Regions from separate parts of the Homo sapiens genome. Here regions 1, 3 and 4 are each reported to be linked to region 2. The links are microRNA targets in miRTarBase. Many come from high-throughput screens and were not tested one by one. Region 2 holds a microRNA gene; each other region holds the end of a gene's coding sequence. Distances are between the middles of the regions.
Evidence for each region. The annotated mature microRNA hsa-miR-135b-3p reads AUGUAGGGCUAAAAGCCAUGGG and lies in region 2 at 2,221-2,242, shown strand. An mRNA with a match to its seed (bases 2 to 7 or 8) in the 3' UTR can be bound and repressed. Matches are read on the target gene's strand: a 7mer-m8 pairs with bases 2 to 8, a 7mer-A1 pairs with bases 2 to 7 and ends in A, and an 8mer does both.

Region 1: the mRNA of TREML2 is a reported target of hsa-miR-135b-3p. Seed matches in the 3' UTR shown: 7mer-m8 at 2,499-2,505.
Region 3: miRTarBase lists NTPCR as a target of hsa-miR-135b-3p. Seed matches in the 3' UTR shown: 7mer-A1 at 1,180-1,186.
Region 4: miRTarBase lists MSL2 as a target of hsa-miR-135b-3p. Seed matches in the 3' UTR shown: 8mer at 623-630.

Annotation. Positions count from the first base shown.
Region 1 is chr6:41,187,972-41,193,724 of GRCh38, reverse strand. It overlaps TREML2 (triggering receptor expressed on myeloid cells like 2), which reads left to right. Exons shown (of 5, transcript NM_024807.4): 4 at 824-924; 5 at 1,219-3,976. The coding sequence ends at 1,298. Among named protein-coding and RNA genes, the nearest start is that of TREML2, 10 kb to the left of the region's middle. RefSeq lists enhancers at 2,187-2,256, 1,875-2,382.
Region 2 is chr1:205,444,812-205,450,564 of GRCh38, reverse strand. MIR135B (microRNA 135b) reads left to right here and starts at 2,167; the gene lies at 2,167-2,263. The region is part of intron 1 of BLACAT1 (BLACAT1 overlapping LEMD1 locus); the gene reads left to right. It also overlaps a transcript of LEMD1 not described here. RefSeq lists a silencer at 373-582 and enhancers at 4,273-4,784, 4,785-5,296.
Region 3 is chr1:232,977,404-232,983,156 of GRCh38, reverse strand. It overlaps NTPCR (nucleoside-triphosphatase, cancer-related), which reads right to left. Exons shown (of 5, transcript NM_032324.3): 5 at 1-4,994. The coding sequence ends at 4,926. Among named protein-coding and RNA genes, the nearest start is that of NTPCR, 30 kb to the right of the region's middle. RefSeq lists an enhancer at 4,204-5,403.
Region 4 is chr3:136,145,969-136,151,588 of GRCh38, reverse strand. It overlaps MSL2 (MSL complex subunit 2), which reads left to right. Exons shown (of 2, transcript NM_018133.4): 2 at 1-2,672. The coding sequence ends at 442. PPP2R3A (protein phosphatase 2 regulatory subunit B''alpha) reads right to left here. Exons shown (of 14, transcript NM_002718.5): 14 at 3,695-5,620. Among named protein-coding and RNA genes, the nearest start is that of MSL2, 48 kb to the left of the region's middle.

The sequences.
Region 1 (5,753 bases), not on the chromosome of region 2:
GAGAGGAGAGGGTGAGGATAGGGCAAGGATGCGCCTCATGGAGTAGGAAGTGGAAAATGGGGGATGCTTTAATTTGGATTCCTCTAGAGAAACTGACTCTGAGTCAGGGATTTGCGTCTTATATGAACACTGGAAAAAAGGTGGGGGAGTGGGACAGGGCAGGGAAGGCCTCTAATAAAGAGTACTTAACCAAGCAGCTGCTGTGCACAACAAGAGCCTAATCCCAACGGGGAGAGTCAGATCTAGCATAAAACACACATCTGAAGGGCAAAGGAGCCCGCATAGTTACACACCAACTCCAATTGGTTATCAGTAGAGGGCTGCCTGCTGTGTGTGGCATAGAGGGCTCTAGTGACAAGAGAAAGGCCTCAGCCTCCCACCCACAGAAAAGGAGGTGCTGATGATGTGTGCAGGTGGAAATGACACAGGCAAGAGGACACAGGCAGGGGCCCGACAGCATCTGCTACAGAGGATAGAGTGGGGGAACAGGCATCCTCAGACCCCTTGAGGAGAGCAAGCATCTTGATCTCTTTAGCCACAAATGGGAGTCTCCTAGAATCCTCATCCTCACTGATGAACAGATTTGGGGGCATAATGGAGGAGAGGTACCAAAGTAGAGAGATGTTCCCCTCTACCTGGGGACGTCCTCCTCTTAACTCCGGATGTCACACTTGCTTCTGTGGCCGGGTCTGTAAGGAAGAGGGTGGCCGTCTACCCCGGGAAGGGCACGCTCTCAGGGTTTCTGCTGCTGGTCCGATCCCAACGTGGGTTAGGATGGGGGACCTTGGTGCTCACCCGCTTCCACCCTGTCCCTTCTTCTCAGGCACCAGGATGTTTACTCCACTGTGCTTGGGGTGGTGCTGACCCTCCTGGTGCTGATGCTGATCATGGTCTATGGGTTTTGGAAGAAGAGACACATGGCAAGTGAGTAGAGCCCACCTCCCAGCCTCCTGAGGGCAGAGCTCTGGGTAACTGCACTAAGGGTTATGACCTCGAGTCCCCACGTGGTATGGCCCTTGGCCTGTGTCCAGTCAAAAGGACTATGACGCTTCCACCTGGGGAGGAGGGCGGCCAGGCGGAGACCACCCAGCACAACCCTAAGGGGATGACCTGGAAGGAACCAGAGGCAGAGCCAGAAAGGGGCTGGGGCTGGTGGAGGAGCATCGGGGCACCGTGGGCAGGGCAGGACACTTCCTCAGCTCTCCCTGTTTCTTGCAGGCTACAGCATGTGCAGCGATCCTTCTACACGTGACCCACCTGGAAGACCAGAGCCCTATGTGGAAGTCTACTTGATCTGAGGCCACTTAAGCATGGGGTGGGGAGCTTCTCCCAGAGTGGCCCCAGGGGGTTAGAGGAGGGGTGAAGATTGGGGCCAGTATCGATCTTATGAAGCTGGAGGACTTGTGCAGTGCTGGACTCACCCAGGACTTCCCAAACCCAGAGGCTGCCATCCTAAGCAGCCCCACAGCCCAGTGTTCTCCTTGGGGGCAGGAACCTGGGGAGGGGCCCAGAGCAAAGGGCATCAGGGAGAAAGTCCCGAGGAAATGTGACCAGTGGTTTCTGCTCGGAGCTGCAGACCCCAGGGCTCTTGGTGGAGGCAGGGGAACCCTGAGAGTGCTGTTTACAGAGAACCTCAGCTCCCGTCTGCCTCAGAAACCCTATTGGGCTGAGCTGCCCTCCCCACCAGGGCCACTGTGTCCTCTGCTTCCCTCCGTTCTGCTTCAGCTTCCCCTAAGGTTAGGGAAGAAAGAATCGGGCTCACGAATGCCAGAGGCAGTGATGTCCCATCCTGGAGGAGAGGAAACAGTGACTAAAAGCTGGGGACCCACAGAGGGGTTGGCAGCTTCTCTTGTCGGGACAGGTGTCCTTTGCTGGGCCTCTGGATGGCCCTGCCCTGACTGGGGCTGCTCCTCCCTCCTGTCCTGGGACCGCGCAGAGCCCACGCTCTCACTGCTGCCTCCTGCTGGCCGCTGCCTCCTTAGAAAGCTGTGACCAGGCAGCTAAGAGCCTCTGGGCTGCAGGGTCAGCCTCTCCCAAGACTGAAGTGCAGAGGCTGGACTTGGGGCTCTCTCCCCCAGCTTCTACACCTGGGCTCCAAGTCTGAGTTCCCACAGGGGACCCAGCAGCCTCCAGGAAGTCCATACCCTGGGGTGGCTGAGACCTTGGCTCTGTATGGAGGCTGCTCACCCCACAGACACTGGTGGGGAGACCATGGCTCAGAGGAAGGGTGGAGCAACCCTCCTCCTACCCCTCAGGATAGAGAGAGAAGACACACTTGGGACACAGTGAAGACAGTAACTTGGAACTGACCACGGCCTGGAGGACTGGCCCAGGCAGGGGGACAGGGAAAATGGAGCCCAAGTAGCCTCTGGCCAGGGACCCAATGTCCCGAGGAATCTGCCTCCCACCCACTGACTCAGGGCTCAGACTCAGCCTCTATTGTCCAGAGCACTGGCTTGGCGTCCAGCAATGAAGGCTGGAGAATGCAGCCTGGATTCCCCTACACACACACACACACACACACACACACACACACACACACACACACACACACAGGTGTCTACTGACCTGGAGTGACTGGAATAGCACCTGGGGATAAATGTGACAACTGTGCATTGAACCCTGGGTCAGGGACGTTCCAATGGCCAAGAGAGTGACACAGCCAGGACCCTGGTGGACAGCCAGAGGGGCCACTTCAGGATGGATGTGGGGAGAGTGGAAGAGGCAGGGAGTAATCCTGGGGGACAGCAGGGAGGAGGCACTTCTTCCCTATGTCCAGGAGAGGGCAATAGAGGGAAGACTGAGGCTGAAGAATTGACGGCTCTGGACCCAGGACAGACAGACAGACAGACAGACAGACAGACAGACAGACACGCACACACACCCATCTCTGTCTAGCAAGCAGCCTCCTAAGATAGCTGTTCTCCCTATCATGACGGTGTAGCCACCATCCTGTTGTATACTAGGAGAGAACTTAACCCACCTGGGGGAAAATAGCTCCCCAAGAGCTGGCACCAGTACCACTGATGGCCCTGCTTCCTCTGAGTGAGATGCCCAGGAGGAGGAGCCCTAGGGAAGAAGTCAGGGACAGGGACCAGGATACCACTCTGTCACTGTGTGACCCTCAGCAAGTCACTAACCCTTGGCCTCATTTTTCCTGTCTTGTGAAAGAGGACAATAATTCCTACTTCTCAAGATTGTTTTCAAGATAAAATAACATTAGCATTGTACAATGATGCAAATGCCTCATTACCATTATTCCTTAAGTTGTTTTCCAGCTCTAATGTTGTTTCCAACATTACATTTAAGACCTTAGGATTCTGTTTCTTGCTTTTGTCATATCTCTTCCCAAGTGTCATCACTATATGGATGTTGAGGGCCCCCGATGACAGTCCCTTTGGTAAGGTCCTCTTTTGAGGAGGGGAGGGTACAGGGTGGACTCATCTCAGTGTGAACTTGGCAAGTCACTGTCCCTCTCTGATCTTGTTTCCTCATCTGGAGAAGGAGTGAGAGAGGAGAAAGGAAGAAACCAGTCAGGCAGGCAGTTAGGGTGGGTTCTCGGTAGAATTCTTTTAAACAAAAGAACAGCCTGAAAAATCAAGCTGCAGGCACAGATATGGGAACTTGCACAGGGGGGCTTGCCTAAGACATGCCCACAGCCTCATAGATAAGACAGACTACACAGGTGACTTGCCCAAACATGCCTGCAATGGAAAATTTCATCCCCTGACATGTGCAGTAAGGGGAACAAAGCAATATGGAGTAAGTAACTCAAGCCAAGGGCCCACATGTACATTAGAAGGACAGCAGGGAGCTACCAGAAATTCATGCCTTATGCAGATGAGCTGCCCAGTCCTCATCGGTTTCTTATAAAAGCCTTTACATTCAACTGTAAAAATGGCAACCCTCTTTCAGGCCTCCTCTCCACAGCAGAGAGCTTTCTTCTCTCACTCATTAAACTTTCACTCCAACCTCATCCTTGGTGTCCACGCTCCTTAATTTTCATTGTTGTGAGACAAAGAACTCCAGTGATACCTCAAACAATGAGAGACTGCTACATTGTGGTGCACTGGTGAGACTGTAACAGGAGGGTGGAGAGGAGCTCTGAAGCCTCTTCTGACTTCCTTGGGTATGTGTGTCAGAGGTGTTTAAACCAGATGGACTCCATCTTGTATAGAGGCTGAGTAAAATAAGGCTGAGACCTACCGGGTTGCCTTCCCAGATGTTAGGCATTCTAAGTCACAGGGTGAGATAGGTTGACACAAGATACAGGTCATAAAGACCTTGCTGATAAAACAGGTTTGCAGTAAAGAAATCAGCTAAAACCCACCAAAACCAAGATGGCAATGAGAGTGACCTCTGGCTGTCCTCACTGCACATTATATGCAAATTATAATGCATTAGCATGATAAGAGACACTCCCACCAGCACCATGTCAGCTTACAAATGCCATGGCAACATCAGGAAGTTACCTTATATGGTCTGAAAAGAGGAGGAACCCTCAGCTCCAGGAATTGCCCACCCCTTTCCTGGAAAACTCATGAATAATCCACCCCTTGTTTAGCATATAATCAAGAAGTAACAATAAATATAAGCAGCTAAGCAGCCCATGTTGCTGCTCTGCCTATAGAGTAGCCATTCTTTATTCCTTTACTTTTTAAATAAACTTGCTTTCATTTTACCATATGCATTTACCCTGAATTCTTTCTTGCATGAGATCCAAGAACCCTCTCTTGGGGTCTGGATCGGGATCCCTTTCCAGTAACATGTGCAGAACAGTTGCATGGACACAGCTCAGCATTAATGAGGTGGGGCACACCGGAAAAGAACAAGAACCAGCCCTGGCCTCAATCTGCTCACAGCCTCTGAGGGAAGGGAGACATGGCACTGCTGGGTACACCCCAGACCTTAGCACAGGGTAAGACACCACAGTGCAAGAGATAGGAGGTTCTCAAGTCCTTCCAAGATGGGGAACTGGGAATCCTGCAGGCTCTGGCTAGCCAGGCAGGCTTCAGGGAGGAGGTGGGGCTCTATCTGAGGCGCAAACCACAGGGTGGAGTCAGGAGGTGAGATCTAGGTGCAGAGACTGCACAGGCCATGGCAGCTGGGAGCCATGGGGAGGCTTGACGAGAAGGGCTGTGGAGGGTGGAAGGGGACATGGCCACTCACCAGCTGGTTGCTGAACCCAAGCAGAGGCCTTTAGCTGTGTCCTGAAGTAGAGCACGGTAGCTGTGAGGGTGACCAACTGTCCCTGTATGCCCCTGAGGGGTTCCTGGAACCAAGTGAACCAGCACAATTTGCTCACCCTAGGAGCCTGCTCCCATATGAACTCCCATGGTAAGGACACGGGGGCTGAGGAGCTATAGACCAAGCCCCATATCCCCAGCCCCAACTGGACACTTTCCTAAACACACCAGCCTTTCACTTCCTCCCTCCTCTCTCAACCTTCTTCTCGAAGCTCCAGGGACCCAGATCCACAGCAGATCCACGGCAGGAAGGTGCAGGGCAGGTGGGGCATCGGACAGGCTGCTCACTTTAGCAGGTGAGACAATAAAGCTTCCTGAGCAACAGGCTGTGGACATAGAACACACACCTGGGAAGGGCTGGCCATCATGGCCAATGGAAGAACAAATAAAGTAAATCCAGTACCTCCTGGATATACACACACCTGCATGGAGCCCAGCAAGCAGGCATTAGGTTTACAGTTCTCTTCAATGGCTGCAACATGCTTTCACTCTGGATCAAATTGAGAG
Region 2 (5,753 bases):
GAAATGGAAGGACAGATAAGTGCTGACCTTGTCCTCCCAGGGCAGGGGAGTGGTGGGAGCAGAATAGGGGTATGGGTGAGGAGAGGAACCAGGGCTGCGGAGAAGGGGAGGGGGGCCAGGCAGGAGAGGGGGGCCTGCAGGGAGCCGTCTCAGGTCTCCTGCCAAAAATTAAACTATAAAAAAGCTGGAGGGGAGCGGCAGGGGAAGGAAGGAGAGAAAGGAGATGGGGAGGGAGGGAGGGACCAAACAGCCCCTCTGCACCAATAGCCCGGCAGGGGGACGTGAGTAATACATGGCTGGTTCAGAGGGAGTGAGATCAAAAGCCAGTAGATACAAGAGGTTTGTGCTTCACCGACCAGACAGCCAGAGGCTCAATGAGACCTTTGTTACTCAGGCCCAAGTCAGGGTTGAAGGAATACCTGGCTGCCCCGCCTGCCCAGCCCGCCCCCACCCCCACCCCCACCGTCCTCAGGGCTGGGGGAGGGGCCGGTCACAAGTGAGTCAAGTTGAGTTGGGTACAGCTCAGCCCTGGCCGGTGGTGGGCGGGCAGGGGGAGGGAGGAGGCCTGCCCTCGCTGGGGCGTGGAGCTTCTCGGGGTGAGTGGAGGAGTGAGTGGCTGCCTGGAAGGCAGGAAGTGGCTCTGCGGGGAATTGTGAGGCGGACTGCGAGGGAAAGGGGGCCTTGTTGAGTCCGCCAGGTGAGCAGCCCCTGGGACCCCCAGCCCCTGGCCCAGCATCCCTTGGGAGGGAGCTGAGGGCATTCTGCCTAGAGTCCATGGCTTTATGCAGGGCCTGGGTCTGGGGTTCTGGGGGCCCATGAGAGAGGAAGGAAAGGAGAACCAGAGGGGGTTGGGGCTGGGGCAGATGGCCCAAAGTTCAGGTGGGAGGCCGCAGGATGCCTGGTTGTTTGGCCCTGAAGGTTGGGCATGTCTGGAGTGTGTGGAGGGGCGTGCTGTGCTGTGCTGTGTGCTGTGTGCTGTGCTGTGCTGTGCTGTTGTTGGGGAATGCAGGATTCCTGTCCAGTGAAAACAGGTTGCTTCTACCAGGGTTGTGCAGGGAGCCAGCAAGTGTTGCCCTGGGGCTGAGGGTACAGTTGGGGTGGGAGAGGCAGCTACTCCCTGGCAGAGGCAGGGCCTGATCTGGGCCTGGGGCCTCTTACCATCTTCTTGGGGGCCCCTGGGAGAGGTCTGAGGCCCCTGGGGCTTTCCTGAGCCTGGGCTAGCAGGAGCCCTAGAAGCCCACTTCTCTGAAGCTGATGCCTGCAGCTGACCCGTCATGGGAGCGGGTGGGGAAATAGCACTTGTGATTAGAACACACCTTTTCCAGGGCCCTGAGACCTTGGTTCGCCTTAACTCAGCTCTTCAATCCAGTCCTAGAGATGTCTGTGCTAACCCCCATGTCCTGCCAATGAGAGCGGCAGGGCACTGCGCACCCCTCCCACAGCCTTGTCAGGGATGGCTCCAGAGTGAGCTGCCCTCAGCTTGGGGAGGTTTCAGCTGAAGCCCTCTTTCTGACTCCAACCAGGTCTGGAGACAGAGATCTCACTCTCCTCTAAACTATGCAAGAATGGGTGTTGTCGGTAACCACCCAGACTGGTCTGGGTAGGTTGGCCCAGCCCCCACCCCTGGGGGCACTCAAGAAACCTATTTAACCCCTCTAAACAAAGGGTAGGTCCTCATCGCTGCCCTCCTTTACCCAGACCCTCCTTTGCCCTCTGTGCTTCCAGTGGCTGGACTAGAAAGAGTTAAGCTTTGTAAAGAGGGAGCCTAACCTGGGGCCCCCCATCCTGGGTACTGGCAGCAGCAGCCTTGAAAAGATCCGGCCTTATTCTCTAGGGAAGGGGTAGTTAAGGACCCTGGGCAGGGGGCTGGAAGCTAATTAAGGGAATTTGAGGAGGTCCTTTATGGCCAGGAAGCCACCCCTCCTCATACCCTGGAGTGAGGACCATTGTGTGAGGCCTTTGTAGGGCAAGAACTGGAAACTCATTACTGGGATGGCTTTAGTGCAGGTGGTGGAAGATGGTGAGAGAATTTAACCTGGGGGGCCCAGTCCTGGAGGGAGGCAGTGTGGGTGGGTCTGGGGTCGGGGGTGCTGAGAAGGGGAGTGAGGGCTTCTCGGGTGCCCCAGCTTCTCGCTTCCCTATGAGATTCCTGCCGCTGGACCCCTCCACTCTGCTGTGGCCTATGGCTTTTCATTCCTATGTGATTGCTGTCCCAAACTCATGTAGGGCTAAAAGCCATGGGCTACAGTGAGGGGCGAGCTCCTTCTCCTGCGCAGCTGCACCTCCCATGGGACCAGGTTCGGAGCCAGCCACCAAGGGGCACCAGAAGGAGGCTTTGCTTGGGGGTGGGGCATCACGGGATCTGGTAACCTGGGATCGGGGCTAAGCCGTGTGACCTTGGCCCAGTCACTTCCCTTCTGGCCCTGTTTCCTCACTCTGGAATGAAGAGACTGGGCCGGTGATTCCAGAGGGAGATTCCCTCTGAGGAAGGAAGGAGACCTTCAGGGTGTGCTGAGCTTTCTGAGTCGGTTCCTTCCCCCTTGCCAAATTACTGAGGCCTGGCTTATGGCCAGAGATTTGGGGGCTGAAGTCAAGGGCCTCAGGCCATGAAGACTTGGGCCTTTGCTCAGTGCCTCCAGGAAAACCTCACTCCTTCACTCCTTTCTCTGAGGTCAGCTTGGAATCTGCAGCCTTTTTTCTGTGTAAGGAGACCTCTGGGCTCTTTCTGAGGCTGAAATGGGAACACTCCATGCCGGCCACGAGGGAAGAGGAGGTGTCTGCAGAGTGAAACTAGGAAGGCAGGCGCTCCCCCGGGCGACAGGCTGGACTCCAGGGTCCCTGGCTCCTGGTGTGCTACCATCTCCAGGAGCTGCCCCCTCCTGCGGTGTGTGAAGGGCACCAGCCCTCCCTGCCCCCGTCCTGCTTGTCACTCAGCTTGCCTGGCTCCTCCCTATGCCTGTCGCCACTCCCACATTCCTTCCCCTGCCCCCTTTTAAATCGGCCTGATTTTAGCCCTCCCATCCTGGAAGATTCCAACAGGTGGCTGTGGTGGAAGAGGAAGCATCCTCGTACCCCGCCTCCTACTCCCTGTTCCAGTCCCCAGTCTGTCTAAGACAGACCACTGAAGAATCACAGAAAGCACTAGATTTGGTATTGACAATCAGAAGGCAAGTTTCTTATAATATCTCAGAGCCCTTAATTTCACCAACCAACACTTACTGGGTACCTACTATGTACCCCATGATTCTAACCGCCTCACCTGCACTAACCCATTTCATCCTCAAGACAGTCCTGTCTACTGTTAGCCTATTTAACTTATGGGAATTCTGAGGCACAGGGAGCTAAGAAATTGGCCCACGTTCATATGGATAGGAAGGAGCACAACTGGGACGTGAACCCACGTGGTCTGGTGCCAAAACCCATGCTCTTAGCACATCATGCTGCATATTGGGAGAGCCAACACCAGTGCATGGGAAAGTACTCTGAAAACCAGGGAGTGCTGTACCCAGACGGGAGGTTGTTCTCACGAGATCTCTATTGGATGCACGTCCACAAATTGGCCCCGTGGCCCAACTCCAATCACCCTTTGTCCATCACTGGTTTTCCTTTTCCCACAGGAGGTCGGGGGGAGCGGGGGGATCAGAACAATAGGAGAAGCAAAGAGAAATCCCAAGCCAGCTGGGTTTTTGCTGGGGCTGATCCAGGCTACTTCCCCTCCTGCCCCAGCTTAGATGGTGAAAGGAACAAGGCATGAGAATTGGCCAGGGTTTCTTACTTGCCCTCTGGGTTCTCTCACCCAGAGTTCAGAGATGGCTGGCACCTTCCTCCACCTCCCTCATTGTCCAGCTGCCCTGGGCCCACAGTGAGCCTATCCTGTTCCCTACCCTGCTCTGAGGCTGTCCAGGCACCTGATTTCCTTCCCTTAACTCCTGATCTCCTAACTGGAAAGCCAGGTTAGAGCCATGCCACCTTCCTGCCCCCTGCAACTGGGCCCCTCCCGGGAATCCTGTTGTTCAGTTTGCCCGGGTAGTCCCCAGCACTGGGCTCAGCCTAGGAGGAAGGGTACAGATGAGCCATTCCAGAGATTATACCTCTGTAAAGCTCTAGCAAGGCAAGGGACTTTGTAGGGATGGCTGAGTAAATGTTTGTTGAATGAAGTACGAACTGGGAGAAAAGATGGATGGGGTAAAAGAGGTAAGTTGCCACCAGCAGGGACATAGAGCAAGCCCACAGCTCAGCAACTCACCCGAGACAGTCCTCGCTTTGCTGGGGCTGGGCCTGGATTGCTTCTGGGGGTTACAAAGGTGGATCTCCATTCTATTCTTTGTCTCTTGGCTACTGCCAATGGGACAGGCCTGGAGAAGATATGTGATTGTATATTTCACATGATTGTTCAATTGCATTGAATAAGCAAGTTGCCCTCATGTCCCTTCTCCCTGGAGGATTCACAGATCAGAGGGCTGTGTGTGTCCTGTCCCCTGCCTGCAGACGGCTGAAACTTTATTCCCAGCAATCTAAGTCTTTTTTACAGTCCTCAGATATACCCAGCATAAGGCCTCCCTTGCGAGAGTGGGCCCATGTTTAACAACACTGAATTCAGATGACTCTCTCTTATTGTATTTGTTCCATTTTTAGTGGAAATAGAGTTTGACTACTAAGCCCTACTCCTTCCTAAATATAAAGACTATTGGGGAAAAAAAGTCTCTCTCCCCATCTTTCGAAAGTTTGACACTAAAGTTTGACCTTTGGGGTTCATTCTGGCGCTGACAGTCTGGTCCACCAGGTTCCCAGCTGCTGCTGCCTGTCACGTTGCCCACTCTTACGGTGGGCCAGCCTCTGCCGAGCCAGGCTGGAAAACACTGAGTGCAGGCCACAAAGACATTTCAGGACTATTGCTGCTCTGACCTCTCCAGCTCCCAAGAATCTCAGAACCACTGAGAATGCTTGGCTGCCCTTGCAGTCTGGAAAAGTGGAGGGAGCTTTCTCCATAGGTGGGCAAGCAAGATACAAGGGTGGCTGGTCTGGCAAGCTAGGGTCTGTGGTCTCTGAAGGCCATTGGAGGCAGAGGCCTTGGCCTGTGATTCCAGAGAGCTCGGTGAGCCAGAGGCTAGAGCTCAGGCTCAAGCAGGCCAAGAAGGAGTTAACCTCCAAGGAGAATGCGGGCTTCTCCCAGACTGGAGGTCTGTGCCCAGTTTTGCTGGTGCCAACTCCGGGAAGAAGTCCTGGGATCTGTAGTTTGTGCCACCACCCACCCCTGGCCTGCCTGTTTATCAACACGGTCTTGTAGACTACAGTTCCCAGAAACCTGCAGAGGCTAGGCTTTGGGGGAAGGGGTGGGGAAGGAGGCTCCGTGGCGGCCAGAGGGAGAGGGAGAGGGAGGAGGTGGGGAGAGAAAACCCAATTCACCCCCTTCGTTTTTAATTCTTTCTCCTGGTGTGTCTGCTCCACCGCCCGAGCTAATCCCCCAAATCCGGTCTCCTAAGCCGCAGCTGCTTCCCTTCGCAGTGATGAATGGCTCAGGGAGGGAAGGTGAATTCATATTTTAATTACTGAGACGCGGTGCTAAGGGAGCCGGGGAGGGGGCGGAGGGCTCAGCTTTGTTCTAGAGGCGTCGAGGGCACACCCTCCTTACTGGGTCACTTCTCTTTTGCCCTTTACCTGGGGTGGGGGGTGGCGGGGAGTTAAGGTGGGGGTTGCCTTGCTGAGAGTGCCTCTGCTCTCTGCCTTGGGAGATGAAGGGATGGGTCGTGGGG
Region 3 (5,753 bases), 28 Mb from region 2:
TGAGGAGAGGGTTGGGGGAAGGGTATTGTAGAGAATCTCTTGCCCCTTGGAAAGTAAATGGTAATGCTTTTCTAATTTTTTTTTTTGTAAACTAAGAATCAGCAATTAATAAAAGCAAGTGTACTCTATAATCACAGACAGAAGGTTCTTATTTTCAGGTCAGCACTCCCTAGAGGTGCAAACTTTATTTAATTTAAATGCAGTTGTTTGTCTAATGGGAAGCTGATAGGGCCTTGCTGCAGTTCTCTAAGGTGGCCAAATTAAACTTGGCTGGCAGCTCCTGTAATCCTCTTGGGCAACTTTACAGCCAAGCCCCAAGGGCTAAATGGCAGGCCTGGAGCTGTGAGTGTGGCCTCCCCACGGAGGGTGACTCCTTGAGTTCAGTGAGGAAAACCACGGTGCCTGGCAGTGGTCAGCCAGGAGTATGACTGGCCACTCCTTAGGCATCCAGAAGTAGGAAACACAGAAAGCATTCCACAAAACGGGGAATCTCCCCAAAGAGCTAGAAACCCAGGCTGGAAGGAAATGGCAGCGCAGGCAAGAGAGCAAGAGCACCCTGGGTGCTCCTCCATCCCGTTTCTCTGGGGAGGTTCATGAGGTGCTTCTTCAACAGTTATTCTGTTCATTGCTTATCACAGTTCACGAGTTCTCGTGGCATCTTTTGTGGGGAGGAGGGAGGATGAAAGTGACACAGTGTATCTACAACACTAAGGTCACATTAATCAGATAGGAATGCAGTGACGCTCTGCACCGTCTATGAGAGCGGGCATCTCGAGTGTGCATACCGAGGCACAGATGTGCACACACATCCGCAGGCAACTGCACCCACAGAGAAAAGGTGGCAGTATTGGAGTCACCCCAGGATTCTTGGGGGCTGTTTGACCAGCCATCAACAGTGCAGCCATACTTCTTTTTCTTTTTTATCGTGGTACACAACTTTTATATTTACAACTCATGAACTTGTTAATCTGGTCCTTCATCTAGTCAGCTATGTATCAGAAAGGACTTCCTGCAAAATGTTATATTCTAAGCCCCCATTTAGAGGAGGCATCCCTAAACTGACATTTCTTGCTAGAGTTGTTCAAATATTCTGCCAGTATATAGCTAAAGAGTTATTTTCCAGTTCAAGAGTTATTTGGGGGCTGGGCACGGTGGCTCACGCCTGTAATCCCAGCACTTTTGTAGGCTGAGGCAGGCAAATCATGAGGTCAGGAGTTCGAGACCAGCTTGGCCAACATGGTGAAACCCCGTCTCTACTAAAAATACAAAAAATTAGCTGGGCGTGGTGGCGGGTGCCTGTAATCCCAGCTACTCAGGAGGTTGAGGCAGGAGAATCGCTTGAACCCAGGAGGCGGAGGTTACAGTGAGCCGAGATAGCACCACTGCACTCCAGCTCAAGCGACAGAGTGAGACTCTGTCTCAAAAAAAAAAAAAAAAAAAAGAGTTATTTGGACACAGATCAAAATGGTTTCTCCTCTAAAGATAATATTAAAACCATAGCACTTGGTTTTATATAAATCATGTGGCCAATTTGGCATTATTGATTCTAAATTTTGCAGTGTGTTGAAATCATCTGGCAAGTAATTTGTTAAAATCATGCGATGCTTCAACTTCTTTGCCCACAAAATGTGCAATGCAATGCCTGTTTACTTAGCCCACCCGTCTCCAGCCTCATCTACCATGCTGTTTTGTCCCAAGTCACTATGCTACACAAGCATCCGCCATCAGCACACACACAGGTGTGATCCACAGACACAACCTTCTATGAATACGGTAATTGGCAGGAAAAGAAGAGGAGCAGGTCTGTTCCACATTTTCCAGCCCACCAGCGTTCCCACCCCCTTGATAACTGGAGGGCTGGGAACTGAGTGCCTGAATTTGCAGCTTTACTAGGATCTCTCCCTGTCAAGGCTGATCATCAGAGATGACACTATCCATTTAAAAGACTCACCCATCTCCCTGCATGTGCTTACCCTCACTGAGAGGTAAGAAGAAACAATTTATTAAACTATTACGTGTTAAGCAGCTGGCGGTATGATCTGCTAAGGAGGAAAAGGAAAGAATGATTTAGTAAATCGTGCTTCAAATCAGTCCTGATTCCTCCCATCCGACCTTGTTATTCTAGCTGAGATTCTTCATATAAGCAATACATGTTAATTCTGTGCTTTTCAAATTGAATTCCTCCCTGAGACTCATATCCAACCATCTGTTAGATATTTTGCTTTGTTTGAATAGGAGGCATTCCAAACTCAGGTATAAGAGAATCCCTGACTTCAATCTGCCCTGCTGCCCCCACCCCACCATCCGGCAAGAGCTCCTCACCTCAGCCGTGGCACCGACAGGGAGGTGGCGCTCAGCTCTGCTCCTCTCATCCTGGCTGCGTGCAGGGAGGGGACGGTCACGTGGAGTTCTGCCACGGCACCTCTTCTTCCTTTAAATCTCAGCATGACACTGTTGCTACAGGCTGTGTGCGTTTGGCCCTGAGTTCTAGTTATCTGTGAATTCATCTTATCCTTCATTAAATGTCATTGCCTTACAATACAGGGATTGCATCTGACATCTCCATACATGCTCCATGATCATTCTGTTTGACTAATACAACAATCATTTCAGGACCTCACCACAAGAGACACTAAACGTTCTTTGGATTTACAGCAGTTTATCACTGCTAAATGTCAACTCTGAGGTCTGGGGGCACAAAACACACTAAAAATGCTAAAGCCTCAAGAAGGACGCAGCAGGGAGTGATGAAAGAGTGAACTTTGGAGCCACGCAGACGTGGGTTCAAATCTCCTTTGTCACCGCTATCACTGTGCTCCTGAACGAACCACTTAAACACTCCAAGCTTGTCTCTTTACCGTTAAAGGGAAAGTGTGCAGAAGCTCCCGCAGCCCCAAGTGCTAGGGGCCACCCTGAATCTGTTCCACACAAGTGCATACTTTCAAGTAGGCAGTGACACTCCCACCCCACATAAGCACAACTGGCTTCAGTGATAAGCCCCTCAGACTAGCTATTTAACTTTGAAATAACCTTCACCAGCTTTCTTTCTCATTTAAGACAAAATCAAAGTCTACAAAACAGACACGGCTGAAACACCAAGCTCAAAAGGACAAGCACCAGAAGGAACATGGCCCTTGGTGTTTCAGATGCATGAAGGGCGGAAACGCAAAACGGCCTCCCGGAGGTGCCAGGAAAGGCTCCATCTTGATGGGGTCCCACTCCAGCTGGGGCTGACCAGCTCCACCACGCCTGGGTGCACATTGATGACATTTCCCCAGCCTGCCTCCCTATCTCTTGGTTCTCCTGAGGGCTGTGGTACTTTCAGATTTACGGCCAGGATCAGGTTCCCAGGCCTTTGTGGGAAGCCTCTACCCAACTCAGAGGCCGTGCCTCTCCTGGCCCACTGAGGCATGCAGCCCACACCGGTGTCCTGGTGATGGTGGCTGGAAGTCACAGCCAGCCTGCCAGACATCCTGAGCTCGGAACTCAGTCTCCCTGAACAGCCCCGCCAGGCAGGGACTGTGGAAGGAGATGCCCACTTCCTCCTCCTGGGCAGGTAGCCCTTTTGAGGGCTTAGTTCATAATCTATTAGGCCTCCCTGTTGTGGTCCCTCCAAGGCTAGGCAAGTCCAAGTCAAGCTTCACAAAGTTACCTCGGAAGAAAAGCGCTGAGGAAAGAGACACTGATGGAGGAACCAGACCTGGGCTGCGTGCCATTTTGGTTTTGATGTGAGCCCCTCCCGCCCCATTCACTGTGCCCCAGTGCCCAGCCCAGGGCTCCTCACCCGCCACATGCCCGACTTGTCCACAGTTAGAGAGAAGGCACACTGCTGCTTATACCAGTGGGTTTGTAGCCAATGCTAATTTGTTAAAAAAAAATCCTGGAAATTCATAGATCTTCACCAAAAATGACCTAAAAACACTGAACTGTTTATCACTCCAGTACCATCTACCACTTGGAGGGAAGTTTTTATCCTCTATCAGTTCTGGGGTTTCAGGGGTCTCTTCTACTTTCCTACTTCATTTTTATAGTACCCCTGTTATGGGCTGAACTCCGCATTGCTACACCATTATTCCTGATAAGCCCAGCCCCTGGCACTGGGCACTCTCCACAGTTGTGTGGAGTGGTTGACAGTTTCCTTCTGTGGTGTGACATCACTCCTGAGATGACAGCCACTTCCTGCTTTTCTGGAAGGGAAACTAGGCATAGAAAGATTCAAAATTGCTCCCGAGTAAACTAAGGCAAAGCAGTGCTCTTATGCAAACCCGTGGGCCTGAGCTCTTGTCATCTGGTCGGCTGAATATCAGATGCTATCAACACTTCCAAAGGTTGTGTATTCCTCCCACACAATGCCTCCTGTCTGTAACCATCAGATTTATTTTTATATTTATTAAGCAGTAAGCAAACAGAGTTGGGGGAGATGACCTAAAATGGTTTTCTTTTGGAATAATATTTTTTAAAAAATCAAATAACTGTTATCACTTTAAGTTGCATGAGGCTGAAGCTGCACCTGGAGAGGAATTTAATTTTCATGACATGCAAAACTGATTAGGCAGTGAACTCTTTCCTCCCGCTTCCCCTGAACACATTTATAAACTTCAACGGGGGTGAATTCCATCTAATACTCTGAAAACCATTTCTCATCTCACAGTTTACCCAAATCATGTGCATGACTGCAAGAGGAAATAAACAAGAAATCTTTAAGCATAGATAAGCCACAATGGATAGTTAATCTTGTACAGACAATCCAGCATTAAGGCTAATTTGATCTTTTAAACATTTTATGGGAAACAGCTGTTGAGTTTTCTCTAGAAAAGCCCACAAGGTTCCATAACCCCATAGGCATACAGCCTCGACAGGCAGGGCTCCATCAGGCTCCTCTTGAACTGGGCACTCCTTCACGGAAGGCAGGAATGCACGTGTCTTCACTTCCTGCTGCTCTGCACGCACGTCACGATATCTGGCAGAAGGTGGTTTCTGTTTTCCTTGGTGACCTGTGGGAAGAAGTGAGAGAACAGGCTTCAGAGCTCCTTTCCTCTTCTTCAATCTTGTGCTAGGTAACTCTCTAAAAGAAACGCCTGGAAGGCTGGGAGAGGGTGAGGTATGTTTTGTTACCCAGGCAGGAGGCCCAGCTCTTCAGGAGCACTCAGAAACAGGACAGGAATCACCGAGTCCCAGCATCAGTTTCTGCCAAGTGACAGCTCAAAAAGTCAAAGTGGGTTTGGAGCCCAGACAGATTTCAGCCAACCATGGGGAGAGCTGTGAAGTGAGTCCGACGAGGCACACCGGGACGGATGATGGGCACACAGGACCCCTGAGCACGACCTGTCCTGAATGGAAGGAACTCAACTGTTGGAGTGAAGCGAGGAGGAGAGCCTGGGAGCCAGCGGGGCCCAGGAGGGCACCCAGCAGAGCAGCAGTGAAGCGCCCAGGATTCTGGGATGCTCAGTCATCTACCCGCCTCTCCACAAACATCAAGTGCTCATTTGAAACATGGAGAAGTGGGAGAGCCAGAGACGTGAGGGTGCCTCCGTACAGACTGTTACTCAGGCCTCCTGACTGCAGTGTGTTCTCCAACACTTACACCATTACAAAATCAAACAAAAGCAACAAAGAGTTCACCAGAGCTTTACCCGATGATCTGTTTATTTTTCTTTCACTACCACACCATCCCGAGTGCCCCAGGGTAAAGGAAGGGCCATCTCTGCTCCCATCACAGTGCCTTCCTACTTGGCCCATATAATATCCATCCA
Region 4 (5,620 bases), not on the chromosome of region 2:
CAAAGCAGTAAAGGAAAAGATTCCTAGTCATCATTTTATGCCAGGAAGTCCTACCAAGACTGTGTACAAAAAACCCCAGGAAAAGAAAGGGTGTAAATGTGGGCGTGCTACTCAAAATCCAAGTGTTCTTACATGCCGAGGCCAACGCTGCCCTTGCTACTCTAACCGCAAAGCCTGCTTAGATTGTATATGTCGTGGCTGCCAAAACTCCTATATGGCCAATGGGGAGAAGAAGCTGGAGGCATTTGCCGTGCCAGAAAAGGCCTTGGAGCAGACCAGGCTCACTTTGGGCATTAACGTGACTAGCATTGCTGTGCGTAACGCTAGTACCAGCACCAGTGTAATAAATGTCACAGGGTCCCCAGTAACGACGTTTTTAGCTGCCAGTACACATGATGATAAAAGTTTGGATGAAGCTATAGACATGAGATTCGACTGTTAAATCAGTGGGTCTTTTAAACCTACTCCTGGTAGGGAAATAGCTACAGTTTTACGGCAGCTATGGTTCTGTTGGTTTAACTTGCCGGAGCTCCTGCATATAGATCACTTGTATCAAGTGTTTTCATTGCTAAGTTATATGTGTTAGTGTCGGGGAAATAGTTTGCAGATAATGGAGGAGTAACCCTACAACTATATGTCCTTAGTTCTTACAGAACCTCATAGTTTGAGAACAAAGCTGATGCAACTGATTTATACAAAATGAACTTTGGCAAGAAAAATAACATTAACCTCATTGTTTATGGCCATGCTTTGTGCATAATCAAAGTTTATGATTAAATGTAAGGAAGTGGTATCTAGTCAGTCCATAAAGATTGTGCTAATTTTTTTGTGGAAAAGTAGCCATTAGTTCAGGAAACTCAGTGCTGCCTTCAGATGTCATTGATGTTTCTCCTGTTGGAAAGCTGATGTGTCCAGCTCAACCTTTGTGCTGACATCATACCATTTCTGATCATGAAATATTGGCTACTGGTGTATGTAGCAGTTCTTAAATCAGCAGTATTATGAAAAAAAATTCCCCCTCATTAGAATGTTTAAGAAATCTTTTTAAAAAGTAAAATTCTGTCAGACTACAAATGTTTAGCTGTTACTCATTTCTAGGGAAGAAATTCTAAATCCCTCCTTCACTTTGAGCAGTGTTCTAATTGGATAAATGAAGGAGAGTAGTTTTATTCTGAAGGTAATTAAATTTAGACTATGTAGTATGTGACAGAATTTTTTTAAAATTATAAAAAGATTTTATTTAGTAATTGGGATTTACTTAAAATAATTTTGGAATAATGCTCCCAGACTTGCCCAGATTTGTGTATTGTACTTATTGCCACTGGCCGCCACTTTGACTTATTTTCTCTAATAGTTTATTTGCCACAGTCTTTATTTTGAATATGCTCCTAGTTTTTTTTTAGGGTGCTGTTCATTATGAAGGCTTCTTTATAGAGGCCTAATAAGAATGCCTTTTTATAAAGCCTGTGCATTTAGGTAGGTTGAAGCTAGGAGGATTTTCTTTAGAATGCTCTTTTGCATGTAAAGCACAAAGTATGTTTCAGTTTAAATGCACTTCTTCCGGTTAATTTTTATGGGGAAGACAAGTGAGTCACAAACATTCTGTTGAAGGGAAATCTAGTCAGTTGCTTGAAAGAGCACAGCCCAAATAAAACAAGGACTGACTAGGTGTAATGAAATAACCTGTGATTTAAAAGAAGAGCTGCAGCTTTGACAGTGCTTATTTAAAGAAAAATACTGCTGGAAAATTTCCAATTTCTACTACGTTCACCATCTCTAGTAAGATCTGACATATGCTGAAGTTATGTTTTGATTTGGCACACAGCATGTTCAATGATGGTTACTCGCCTAGTACAAGACATGGAGAAGAAACCTTTGGACACAGAGCAGATGACACCTCCTTCTGTTTTGTAGTGTATCCTGGTGTCATTTTCTGTGAATGTGGTCAGGTAGAGTTGTTTTTGTTGTTGTTGTTGGGCTTTTTTTTCTTTTTTTTTTTTTGGTCTCTTTTGGTGGGGTGGGGGTGGGCTAAAGCCATAGGAAGAAAAATGTGATGTATGTGTCCAGTATGTACTATTTTGTTTTTGTTTTGCAAGAAGAGTTGAACTATTTTTGATAACAAGAGTAAATGGTGGAAAATGCTTCTTAGTTGTCTTGTCTTTATTTGCTTTCCAAGATTTGGAATTTTATTTAATTCCTTTAAGTGTTAGCAGTGTCTTATGAAACGTGTATTTACCTAACGTTTGTAACAGTTTTGTGTTGAACCCAGATGCCCTGCTATATAAAGTTGTAAATCTGTTCTTTATTCACTAATGATCACTGCAAAAATGATTAGAAATGAGATTGTACACATGGATGAGGATATATTTTGCAAATCGACCAAACTTTCCTAATATTATGATCTTAAAATTCATAGAGTACTTTATTGCTTCCCAAGTTTGATAATCTTGTGGGTTTTTTTTTTTTTTTGATGCATGGGAGGTTGGCAATATAGACAAAGTGGAAATCATTAGTATGTGAGGGCCTTGATTGTTATGTAATATTGCCAATGATGAATTCAGGTTGTTTTTAGCACAAGTTTCTCTTTTTTATGCTGGTATTCTCACTGCCACATTTTTGGAAACCTGTATTACACCTTAAATCTATCAATAAATGATAGTTTTCTAATTCTATGTTGTAGAATACTGAAGAGTTTGGGATAGCATGCTCTGAATGGTCTGTATTATATACATCTGGGGAAGAGTAATCACAGTGCCTTGATTTTTATATTATTTTTCTTTATACCACGAGTTACTTAGGAATGCTGACAAATGGCTAACGAGGGATGATTGAGAGATTATTACTGAAGTAACTGGATTTACTTCATCAGGATTTGAAACCACCAAAGAACAGCAGCATTTAATAAGACACATCCTGAATTGTTGAGTCCTTGTTATTAATATAAATGATCAAATGATCTTTTACCTTAGGTAATAGTTTTAGAGCTGACAATTTTATCTTTTTGGTTAGCCTTATTAAGTCTGCATTTCCGGGAGGAGGTGTAGTATGGTCCTAGGGATAAAGAATTCCTTTTATTTCATTGTATTCTTAGTTAAAACAATTTATTGGTGACCTTGTTGAAGAAGAGTAAAAGTTTTATGGGAATCAGATGAAAAATAAATTGTCCATAACCATATCATAGATAAAAAACAGAAATGCTTTAGAAAATACTAAGTTCAAAGTATGGTATTTTATACTTTTCTCTTTTTAAAAAAATTAAAAGCTAGGCACAGTGGTGTGTGCCTGTAATCTCAGCTACTTAGGAGGCTGAGGTGGGAGGATCACTTAAGCTCAGGAGTTCGAACTCAGCCTGGGCAACATAGACCTTGCCTCTGAAATAAAATTTAGGTACCCCAAAACATGCCGTTACACATTCTTTTAAAATAATGCATTATAGATGAGGCTAAAGTCTACCTTGATTCCTGTGAACTCCGCCTCATTCACAAACCCTGGTCCTCTTCCCTATCCCCTGAAGAAATCATTTCTCAGTATATTGTCATTACTACAAAGACCTTTCTTTGTAGTTTTCACATGGGCTCAAAGAGTTATTCTCTGACATTCAAGCTTGTTTACAGTGTTACTCTTGCAGACAAAAAAATGAGGTGCAAATATGATTAAAAGCACAAGTGTGTAGTAATTACCTTAATGAACATGATTCATATTTGACAACTTTATTTAGTTTTGCTAAAAGGGAAAAACAAAGTCATGCAGCCTTCTCCAAACACATCTTAACATTTCAAAAAGCTGAGCAAATCTCATTTGATGAATCTAGAGTTTTATAAACACTTTGAATGGTACACAGTGACAAGATGCAGGGAAGATATATGGAATTTTATTAGTTTGATTACCTTGGTAATGTTATGCTATTAAACTCATTTCTCATTGAATTAGCATTAAGGTCATGATAACCCTCAGCTTTTATCAAGGGGCCTGGGATATTATAATAACTTGAAAATTCCAGTTTGGCAGTAATGATTATACTTAACCATGATCTTTACCAGAAAGTCAAATATATTCTACCTTAATTCCTCAGAATTCACATTCCTTGCATTCAGCTCCAAGGAAGGAGTACAATAAAACACATTCTTATAATTCCTGAAAATGTGATAATGTGGGTAAATTACAATAGCCCATTTTAAATGGAATGGTATTGATGGATGTACTTTTATAATAGAGACTTTGTAAGAGAATGGGGTCTTGCTCTGTCGCCTAGGCTGGAGTGCAGTGTCGTAATCATAGCTCACTGCAGCCTCGAAGCCTGGGGCTCAAGCGATTCTCCTGCCTCAGCCTCCCAAGTTGGTAGGACTACAGATGTGCACCACCATGCCCAGCTAAATTTATTTTTTGTAGAGACGGAGTCTCACTATGTTGCCCAGGCTGGTCTTTACTCCTGGGCTCAAGTGATCACCTCCCTTGGCCTCCCAAAGTGCCGGGATTACAGGCATGAGTCACCATGCCCAGCCAATAATTAAGAGACTTCAAAAACCAGATCAAAGTGAAAGCAAGAGGACTTCAGTAAGGAGAACCAAGGTAAAAAGGTAAAGCCAAATAGTTAAAAAAAAAAATGTATATTGTAAAATTGAATTTTTACTTTTTGGTGAATCTTATTAGTTTAGATCATTATGGATAATAAAACATTTAAACCATATCTGGCTTCTAAGAAAAGTATTTTTTTTTTTTTTGTATTTCTATCTGAAATGAAATAATTGCTTTTCTTCCCTGGTAAAGGCTGGATGGATTGGTAGGAGATTTCATTTATCACATAAATAATCTTAATCTTAATAATTTATCAGTGTGTTTAGATTTTGAATATTGTGTTTCCTAAAAATTATTTTTAAGCTTTTAATTCTTTTGTGTGAACTATTAGATAGTTGCAATAGTTACTGCTTTCTGTAATAGTTAAATGGAAGATCAGTTCTAATCATGAAGATAAAATGACAGGGAACTGGGAGCTTGTGACAGGCAGGATTCCTAGGATTGTTAACTCTCACTGTACTGTACCTTGTTTATAGCATATTTATTTCCTAAATTCTCCTTTTCTTTTTGCCTACCATAACTCTAACCCAAGGTTCATTTCACTGCTTGGCCTTTATGCCAGCAAGGAGGGAACCTAGGTAGGGTGGAAAGGGAAGCTATTCTTGACACTTTCAGAACTAGTTAAAAAAAAAATCTAGGGGAAAAGTTGATGACTGACAGATGGATATTAAGTTGCTTGGGGGTTTTACTTACATCAGAAATGTCTATCCTTTTTAATAGTTTCTTTTCAAGGATATTATAGGATTTGGCTGGACTGTGGCCTGCTGAAAAATGTAGGATTCTGTAGTGAATACATCTACAACTACAGTAAATAACAGCTTTCTTTTATAGCTGTATCATTTTCCATTTCCTTGATAAATACTGAGGTGGATGAAATATCTGTAGTAATTGTTTTCAACATGAAGTAAAGAATAACGTTGAGGCCTTTACTATTAGCTAGTCTAATACTCCTGGGAGGAAGGAATATATCTATCTAGTAAGAATTTTAATGTATCATTATTCCTTTATGTCTTCAAGCAGGCCTTCTGATAGGAAGTGAAAACAG